Homo sapiens: one gene and its partner. The protein of the gene in region 1 purifies or fractionates together with the protein of each later gene. This does not show direct contact. Each region holds a gene or a part of one and is shown on either strand. Other genes may lie near its edges. The genes, in order: PDK4 and COA7.

Evidence for each region.
Region 2: the proteins of PDK4 (region 1) and COA7 purify together in Homo sapiens (affinity purification with mass spectrometry; 2 studies listed by BioGRID and IntAct, with this or other methods). This does not show direct contact.

The regions. Positions count from the first base shown.
Region 1 is NC_000007.14:95,594,533-95,598,657, reverse strand, and holds the start of PDK4 (pyruvate dehydrogenase kinase, isozyme 4), read left to right. Parts: upstream 1-2,141; 5' UTR 2,142-2,364; coding exon 2,365-2,494; intron 2,495-3,493; coding exon 3,494-3,635; intron 3,636-4,125. UniProt on the Homo sapiens protein: Kinase that plays a key role in regulation of glucose and fatty acid metabolism and homeostasis via phosphorylation of the pyruvate dehydrogenase subunits PDHA1 and PDHA2.
Region 2 is NC_000001.11:52,684,748-52,688,347, reverse strand, and holds part of COA7 (cytochrome c oxidase assembly factor 7), read left to right. Parts: intron 1-179; coding exon 180-628; 3' UTR 629-3,600. UniProt on the Homo sapiens protein: Required for assembly of mitochondrial respiratory chain complex I and complex IV.

The DNA of each region.
Region 1 (4,125 bases):
CCACTCAAGTGCAACTGCTAGAGTCTATACTTGGATCATCCTTGAATATTCTCTAAGAACCCAGGCCCCATCCTCTTCATTGGAAGATCATAAATATTGCATGTCTTCACATAGCTGTTTCTCAAAGGTCTGAAAAAAATATTTGGTCATAACAGGAAGTCTCAAATTCTCGACCATCTATAGGTAATGTATAGACAATGGGAGAAATAGTAGGAGAGCTAATATGGTGCCTCCAAACAGGCCACATAACTGACACAGGGTTTGCCAGGACTGTTTCAGATCCCTCATAATGGTGTTGATTTTAGAGAAGCAAAATTGATACCTATTAGACATCCAAATGGAGAAACCAAATAGGCAATTGAATAGGAGAATCTGGCTCTTGGAAGAAAGTTTGTGCTAGAGATAGAATTGGAAATCTGTCCTGTGATTTAATGCAGTCTCCTAGACGAAGAGGGCAAAGGATGACAGCAGAGCCTAGGATCACTCATGACTTTCAGAGTTGCCCGTTCTGCTTATAAATGCAGGGCAGGCTGGGCGCAATGGCTCACTCCTGTAATCCCAGCACTATGGGAGACCGAGGTGGGTGGATCACTTGAGGTCAGGAGTTTGAGACCAGCCTGGCCAACATGGAGAAACCCCATCTTCACCAAAAATAGAAAAAATTAGCTGAGTGTGGTGGCGTGTGCCTGTGATCCCAGCTACTCAGAAGACTGAGGCAGCAGAATCGCTTGAACCTGGGAGGCCGAGGTTGCAGTGAGCCGAGATGGCACCACTGCACTCCAGCCTGGGAGACAGTGTGACTCTGTCTCAATAAATAAAGTAATTAATTAATTAATTAAAATAAAATAAACGCAGGGGGAGGAGGCCAAAAAGGTTTTTTATAACAAACTATCATTTTTAACACCTCATAAATTCCCATTCTATTACATTTGTAACCAACTCTCTTACTCCCAACTTTCCCAAACACGGTGGCTTCATTCCCTAGTCCTTTTAGAGTGTCGGGAGAGGAAAAGGAGGTTAGTATGACAGGGTAATGTGTCTCAACCACTGTCATTAATTTAATAAATATTGAGTAGTGAAAAAGTAGGAATCACAAAGCTGCATCAGACAGGGTCCCTACCCTGATCTCTTTCAGGAAAGGGGGGAGTCAGAGAGGGATAATATAAAAACATAAATAGCTATAGAATAGTACCATGAAAGACCAAGGCCTTATTTGGAAGAAGTGAGGAGAAGTAATCAAGGAAGACCTTTTGCAGCAGACAGCTTGTGCCAGACATTTGAGGGTAGAATGGAATGTCTTAGGTAAAGATTTGGAGTAAGGACATTTCGTACAGGGCAGAGTGAACAAATTCTCTGATCACCGCAAAAGGTAAGGCAAACTGACAAATTGATCCCTTTTTAATTTTGTTTTTAATTAACAGAACTAAACCTAACGGAAAGAATGTGTTGCCGGAGAAGAACGAATTGATGGCCTTTTATTACCACAGGAAAAAGTAAATGTATCTGGGCAGCCCCTCAAGTCTCAGCAAAAGGAACGTACAGTTCCTGCCATGTGCCGGTCTCTTCTGAAGAAAAGGGGGCGGTGGGGGTGGGGGCGCAGGTCTTTAGGTTGTTTATTCCTTTCTCTCTGTCCAGTGGCAGAGAAGCCCATACTTTTGAACGCAGCTTGTTGGCTACTGTAAAAGCCCTGCTCTGAGCAAGGACCAATGAGCACGCGGAGTCCAAACTCTTGGAAACAGTTTGTGGCCAGGAGTACTTGACATTGAGACAGCCTCCGAGTTGTAAACAAGGGCGAGCCTGGGCGGGACCCCAGCCCACGCGACTCGGAGCCCCGTCCCAAGAGGCTAATCTTAAGCCCACGTTGCCCCAGATACCTGTTTCTGCTTCCTCTTCCCTGTTCTTCCCACCCTTTTTCCGTCACAGCCGCGGGCACCGGTGCCAGGGCACTCCGTGGTCACCGTGCCAGGCCATTCTGTGATGACCGCGGCTGGAGGGGCGGAGCCCATAGTTCTTTCTCTGATCTGATTGGCGCGACCTGGAGTTCAGGACGCGTTTCCAAGTTCCAGTGACTCCTCCTGTTTGGGACTCGGGGGGAGAGTGCGGGGAGACAAATAAAACCTCGGGCGGCGGCGGCTGGTGGGAAGACTTGAACTTGAATCTCGAACCACTGCATCTCCGACTCTGCCCAGACTCTTCACTCCGCGGCACCCTCAAACCCCAGCCCAGGCCGGGGCGCACAAGCCAGCCAGCGCACCTGCAGTCCTCGCCCGGACGCGCCGCGCCCCCTCGGAACCAGGCTCTGCTCCGAGCAGCCTTCGCCCCTCAAGCCAGCCACAGTCCCCGCCAGGCCGGGTGGGCGTCAAGATGAAGGCGGCCCGCTTCGTGCTGCGCAGCGCTGGCTCGCTCAACGGCGCCGGCCTGGTGCCCCGAGAGGTGGAGCATTTCTCGCGCTACAGCCCGTCCCCGCTGTCCATGAAGCAGCTACTGGACTTTGGTGAGAGGGGACACAGGGCCCAAGCTGGGTCCTAGGGTTGGGGAACTGCCTTAACTTTCAGCCTTGGTAGAGGGAGGGCTAGGCTCAAGCTAAAACAACTGGGGTTCACTTTGCTGCTGAGCCCTGGAGCCTCGACGCCAGCACACCTTTCCTTTTCCTAGATTTGGTTACTTTCTGACAGGGGTGCCTCCAGGTCAAGGCCACCTGCAAGCCTGCCGACGCTGGATGGTTTGACTTCATCTGCACACTCTTCTTTCTGACCCGCTCTTCCAGTCAAAATACTTTTTGCTTTCGGTCACCGTTTAACAATGGACTGGAAACTTTATCCTCTCCTTCACAGCATAGTACTGCTTGGAGAAGTTTCTGAATAGTATTAAATAGCCTCAAATTAACAGATTTTATTCCTTAGCCACCTGGCATCCTTCCACAGGGTACATCTCTCTGCATTCCTGACAGATTTCTTTGTCTCTTTATCATTATAGTTTTCCATATATTTGCATTGTTGCTGAAAATATTTACACATTTGTTGCAGTAATCTTATAAGGAAGATTTCAAGGGTTTAAATGTGATATCACTACTCTGGAAATATCACAGCTCCCCCTCCAGCCTCTTATCCCCCAACTCCAATTCCATGTCCCCACTCATTAAAGGATGTTGTGTTGTTGACATTGTGGTGTGACCGAATCCTGCAGTCTTTTATAAATTCTAAGAACTGTGGGATATTCTTACTTCTTGGAAGTGAATCCTCTTCAAAAAGAGAAGACAATAATTCTCCTATATCTGTCACTTTTTAAAAGAAAGAAGGAAAGACGAAAGGACGAAGGGAATTAGTCAATTAAGGAGACAATCGCCCCTGAATTATCGATTAACAGTAACCCAACTGAGAGTGAAATATAATTTTATAATATATGTGTGTTCAATATTTGATAGTTAATGCTATTTAGATATATCATTTAGACACACTTTTTCTCAAAACTAAATTGATTTCATTTATTATAGGTTCAGAAAATGCATGTGAAAGAACTTCTTTTGCATTTTTGCGACAAGAATTGCCTGTGAGACTCGCCAACATTCTGAAGGAAATTGATATCCTCCCGACCCAATTAGTAAATACCTCTTCAGTGCAATTGGTTAAAAGCTGGTAAGTGGTGAACCATATTGAAGTCTCTAGTTTTGAAACAGTTACCCGGGTATGAATTCTTATACTATGTTAACATCATAATTGGAAAACAGGTGATCTGAATGGTAACTACTTTTGAAAGATGTAAGAATTTTAAAATTAATTTAGGGTAAGTTATCATTAGAGAAGTTATAAAACTATAAACAGACATTTTTACCCTGAAAAAGTAGATTACTTTATAATAAAATTTTGAGTTCTAGGAAAAATTTGAAAAAAATTGGCATGCAATTTTAATTTTCAATTATAGAAGAGCACTTTCAATAATAAAAGAGTTTGATATTGCAAAAGAAATCCTATGCCTAGAAACCAATTCACATGACTGCTATTTAGGGAAGGCCTAATCTTTGTAACTTACAAAGTGATTGACAGAGTGGGCTCTGGGTTCAAATCCTGCCTCTGTCACTTCTAGTTGTGGAATCCTTGGCAAGTGTCTTAAACTCTTTATGCCATT
Region 2 (3,600 bases), on another chromosome or scaffold:
ATTGCTTTAGCCGGAGGTTGAGGCTGCAGTGAGCCGTGATCATGCCAGTGCACTCCAGCCTGGTTAACAAAGCAAGACCCTTTCTCCAAAAAAAAAAAAAAAATTCACTGACTTTGGCCTGAGACATTTAGGTTGTGCCCTGGCTTGGGTTTATTTTTTCCTACTTTCCTTCCTCTCAGGTGGTCTGACCCAGGACCTGAAAGCTGCCGCCAGGTGCTTTTTGATGGCGTGTGAGAAGCCTGGAAAGAAGTCAATAGCAGCATGTCACAACGTTGGCCTCCTGGCACATGATGGACAGGTTAATGAGGATGGCCAGCCTGACTTGGGAAAGGCCAGGGACTACTACACAAGGGCCTGTGATGGTGGCTATACTTCCAGTTGCTTCAACCTCAGTGCCATGTTCCTGCAGGGTGCCCCAGGCTTTCCCAAGGACATGGACCTGGCATGTAAATACTCCATGAAAGCCTGTGACCTGGGTCATATCTGGGCCTGTGCCAATGCCAGTCGCATGTACAAGCTGGGGGATGGTGTTGATAAGGATGAGGCCAAGGCCGAGGTGCTAAAAAATCGAGCCCAGCAGCTACACAAAGAACAGCAGAAAGGTGTCCAACCCTTAACATTTGGGTAATGTGGTCCACCCTCCCTCCCAGGCAACAAACTGCTTGAGGCTGGCAGCTCCTGTTTCTGAAGACTGATGCAGCCCTTGAAGGTCAACCTGCTGGAGCAAAAAAACTTGGGACTTGAATTTGTAGCTCCATTTACATGGATCCATTGCCCCAGCTACTGGAGTATAGCCTACAATGTTTATTTCAGTCAATATTCCTTTATCTGGGTGTTCTGTACAATGTTTATTACAGTCAATATTCCTTCATCTGGATGTTCTGTGAAGATAGCCATGTTTATGGGGGTCTTAGTTTTCAAACTCTGGCAACTCTGTGAAAAATAGGAGCAAACTAGAGAGCCCTGGAGATTGGTAGTAGGGAAGGGAGGATAGCAGGAAGTTTGAAAAATTAGCAGCCCCGGGGCCTAAAGGAATCAGCTGTCATCATTTTCATCATTATTATTTTGGTTAGGATGGCTTGAAAATCAGAACGTATCTTGGTTTACGTAATTGAGGTCTTAAAGAACTAAGAACAGTTAAATAGTCACAACTACCACCCTCTGACTTACATAATCATTGGTGTGGGCTTCGTTTTGCCTTTAGAGTCACATCTTTCAGTAAATTCACAGAGATCAAGAGGGACGTGCAACATACAGCTTAAAGGCTGTTATGCTTCAGGGTTGCTGAAGAAGATGAAACATCAGCCTGCCATCGTCTAGAAGAGACATTGGCAGTTAAAAATTAGCACCTCCAGTGTAGTCGCCTGGCACTGCCCATCATGCTGAGGGAGCAGATTCTTCCCAAGGCAGCTTCAGCTAGGAGTTTGTAAGCAAGGACTTTGTGACACATTTGTCCCCTGGAACTGAGCCTTTTTAACTGTCCCTGTGAATGAACAATTTTGAGTGACCTACGGTTTGTGTTAATTAGTGTTCTTTCCAGATTCCAGGTACCGTAGAGAGTATGTTCTTTGTGGTGGTTGTGCCTTTTAAGAACATTTGTGGCCGGGCACGGTGGCTCACGCCTGTAACCCCAGCACTTTGGGTGGCCAAGGCGGGTGGATCACGAGATCAGGAGATCATGACCATCCTGGCTAACACGGGGAAACCCCATCTCTACTAAAAAATACAAAAAATTAGCCGGGCGTGGTGGCAGGCGCCTGTAGTCCCAGCTACTGGGGAGGCTGAGGCAGGAGAATTGCTTGAACCCGGGAGGCGGAGCTTGCAGTGAGCTGAGATTGCGCCACTGCCCTCCAGCCTGGGCGATAGAGTGAGACTCCGTCTCAAAAAAAAAAAAAAATTTGCTTTTTCTGTTGTCTCCCCAGCTTGTCACCAGGGGGCGAGCTTGCCATTTCCCTGCTGGTAACAATACCATTCTGTCACCATCTACTGTTTTAGGCTTCCGTTTTGCAGCCGTCCTGAAAGGAAGGCTTGCTGTGTAAATGAAGGCTTGTGAGCACAGCAGCCAGCCTCTCAAGTTGATAGAGGACAGGGACTTCCCCAAGTGCACAGAGGAGATTTCAAAAGACATCAAATTCACTTTTTAAAAATGTAAAGTAGCTTTTGGTGTGCTTAAACTAGGTCAGGCCAGGCGTGGTGGCTCATGCCTGTAATCCTAGCATTTTGGGAGGCCAAGGCAGGTGGATCACTTGAGGTCAGGAGTTCGAGATCAGCCTGGCCAACATGACGAAACCCCTTTCTCTACTAAAAATATAAAAATTAGCTGGGCGTGGTGATGCATACCTGTAATCCCAGCTACTTCGGAGGCTGAGGCAGGAGAATCACTTGAACCTGGGAGGCAGAGGTTGCAGTAAACTGAGACTGTGCCACTGCACTCCAGCCTGGGCAACACAGCAAGACTCTGTCTCAAAAACAAAAACAAAACTAGGCCAGGTGCAGTGGCTCACGCTTGCAATCCCAGCACTTTGGGAGGCCGAGGCAGGCGGATCACGAGGTCAGGATTTCGAGAACAGCCTGGCCAACATAGTGAAACCTCGTATCTACTAAAAATACAAAAATTATCTGGGTGTGGTGGTGGGCACCTGTTGTCCCAGCTATTCAGGAGGCTGAGGCAGGAGAATCGCTTGAACCCAGGAGGTGGAGGTTGCAGTGAGCCAAGACCATGCCATTGCACTCCAGCCAGGTAACAGAGTGAGACTCTGTCTCAAAAAAACACACACACACACACACACAAAACTGTAGGTCAAAAAACATGAAAATATGTTCAACATCACTAATTAGGGAAATGTAAATCAAAAACCACAATGAACTCTTAAAATTCAACAGTAAGAAAACAACCTGATTAAAAACAGGCCAAAACCCTTAACATATCTCAGCAAAGAAGATAGACAGGTGGCAAATAAGCATATGAAAAGATGTTCCATATAACATGTCATCAGGAAAATGCAAGTTAGAACAACAGACCACTATACAACTATTAGAATGGCCAAAATCCAAAGCACCGACAGCATGAAATGCTGGGAAAGTTGGAGCAACCAGAACTCTTATTCCTTGCTGGTGGGAACGCAAGATGGCACAGCCACTTTGGAAGACAGTTAAGCAGTTTCTTACAAAAACTAGGTAAGCTCTTACCATGTGATCCAGCAATCTTGCTCTTTAGTATTTACCTGAAGGAACTGAAAACATGTCCACACAAAAACCAGCACATGGATGTTTATAGCAGCTTTATCTATAATTGCCAAAACTCAACCCAAAATGTCTTTCAGTAGGTAAATGGGTAAATAAATTGTGGTGCATGTAGTCATTATTCAGTGCTTAAATCAAGCTATGACAAATTATGAGTTATCAAGCTATAAGAAGTCACAGAGGAACTTAAATGAATGCTACTAAATGAAGCCAGTCTGAAAAGGCTTCATATTAAATGATGCCAACTATATGACACTGGGATGTATTCTGGAAAAGGCAAAACTATGGAGACAGTAAAAAGCAGTGGGTGGGGGAGGGGAGGGAGGAATAATTGGAGCACAGAAGATTTTTAGGGCA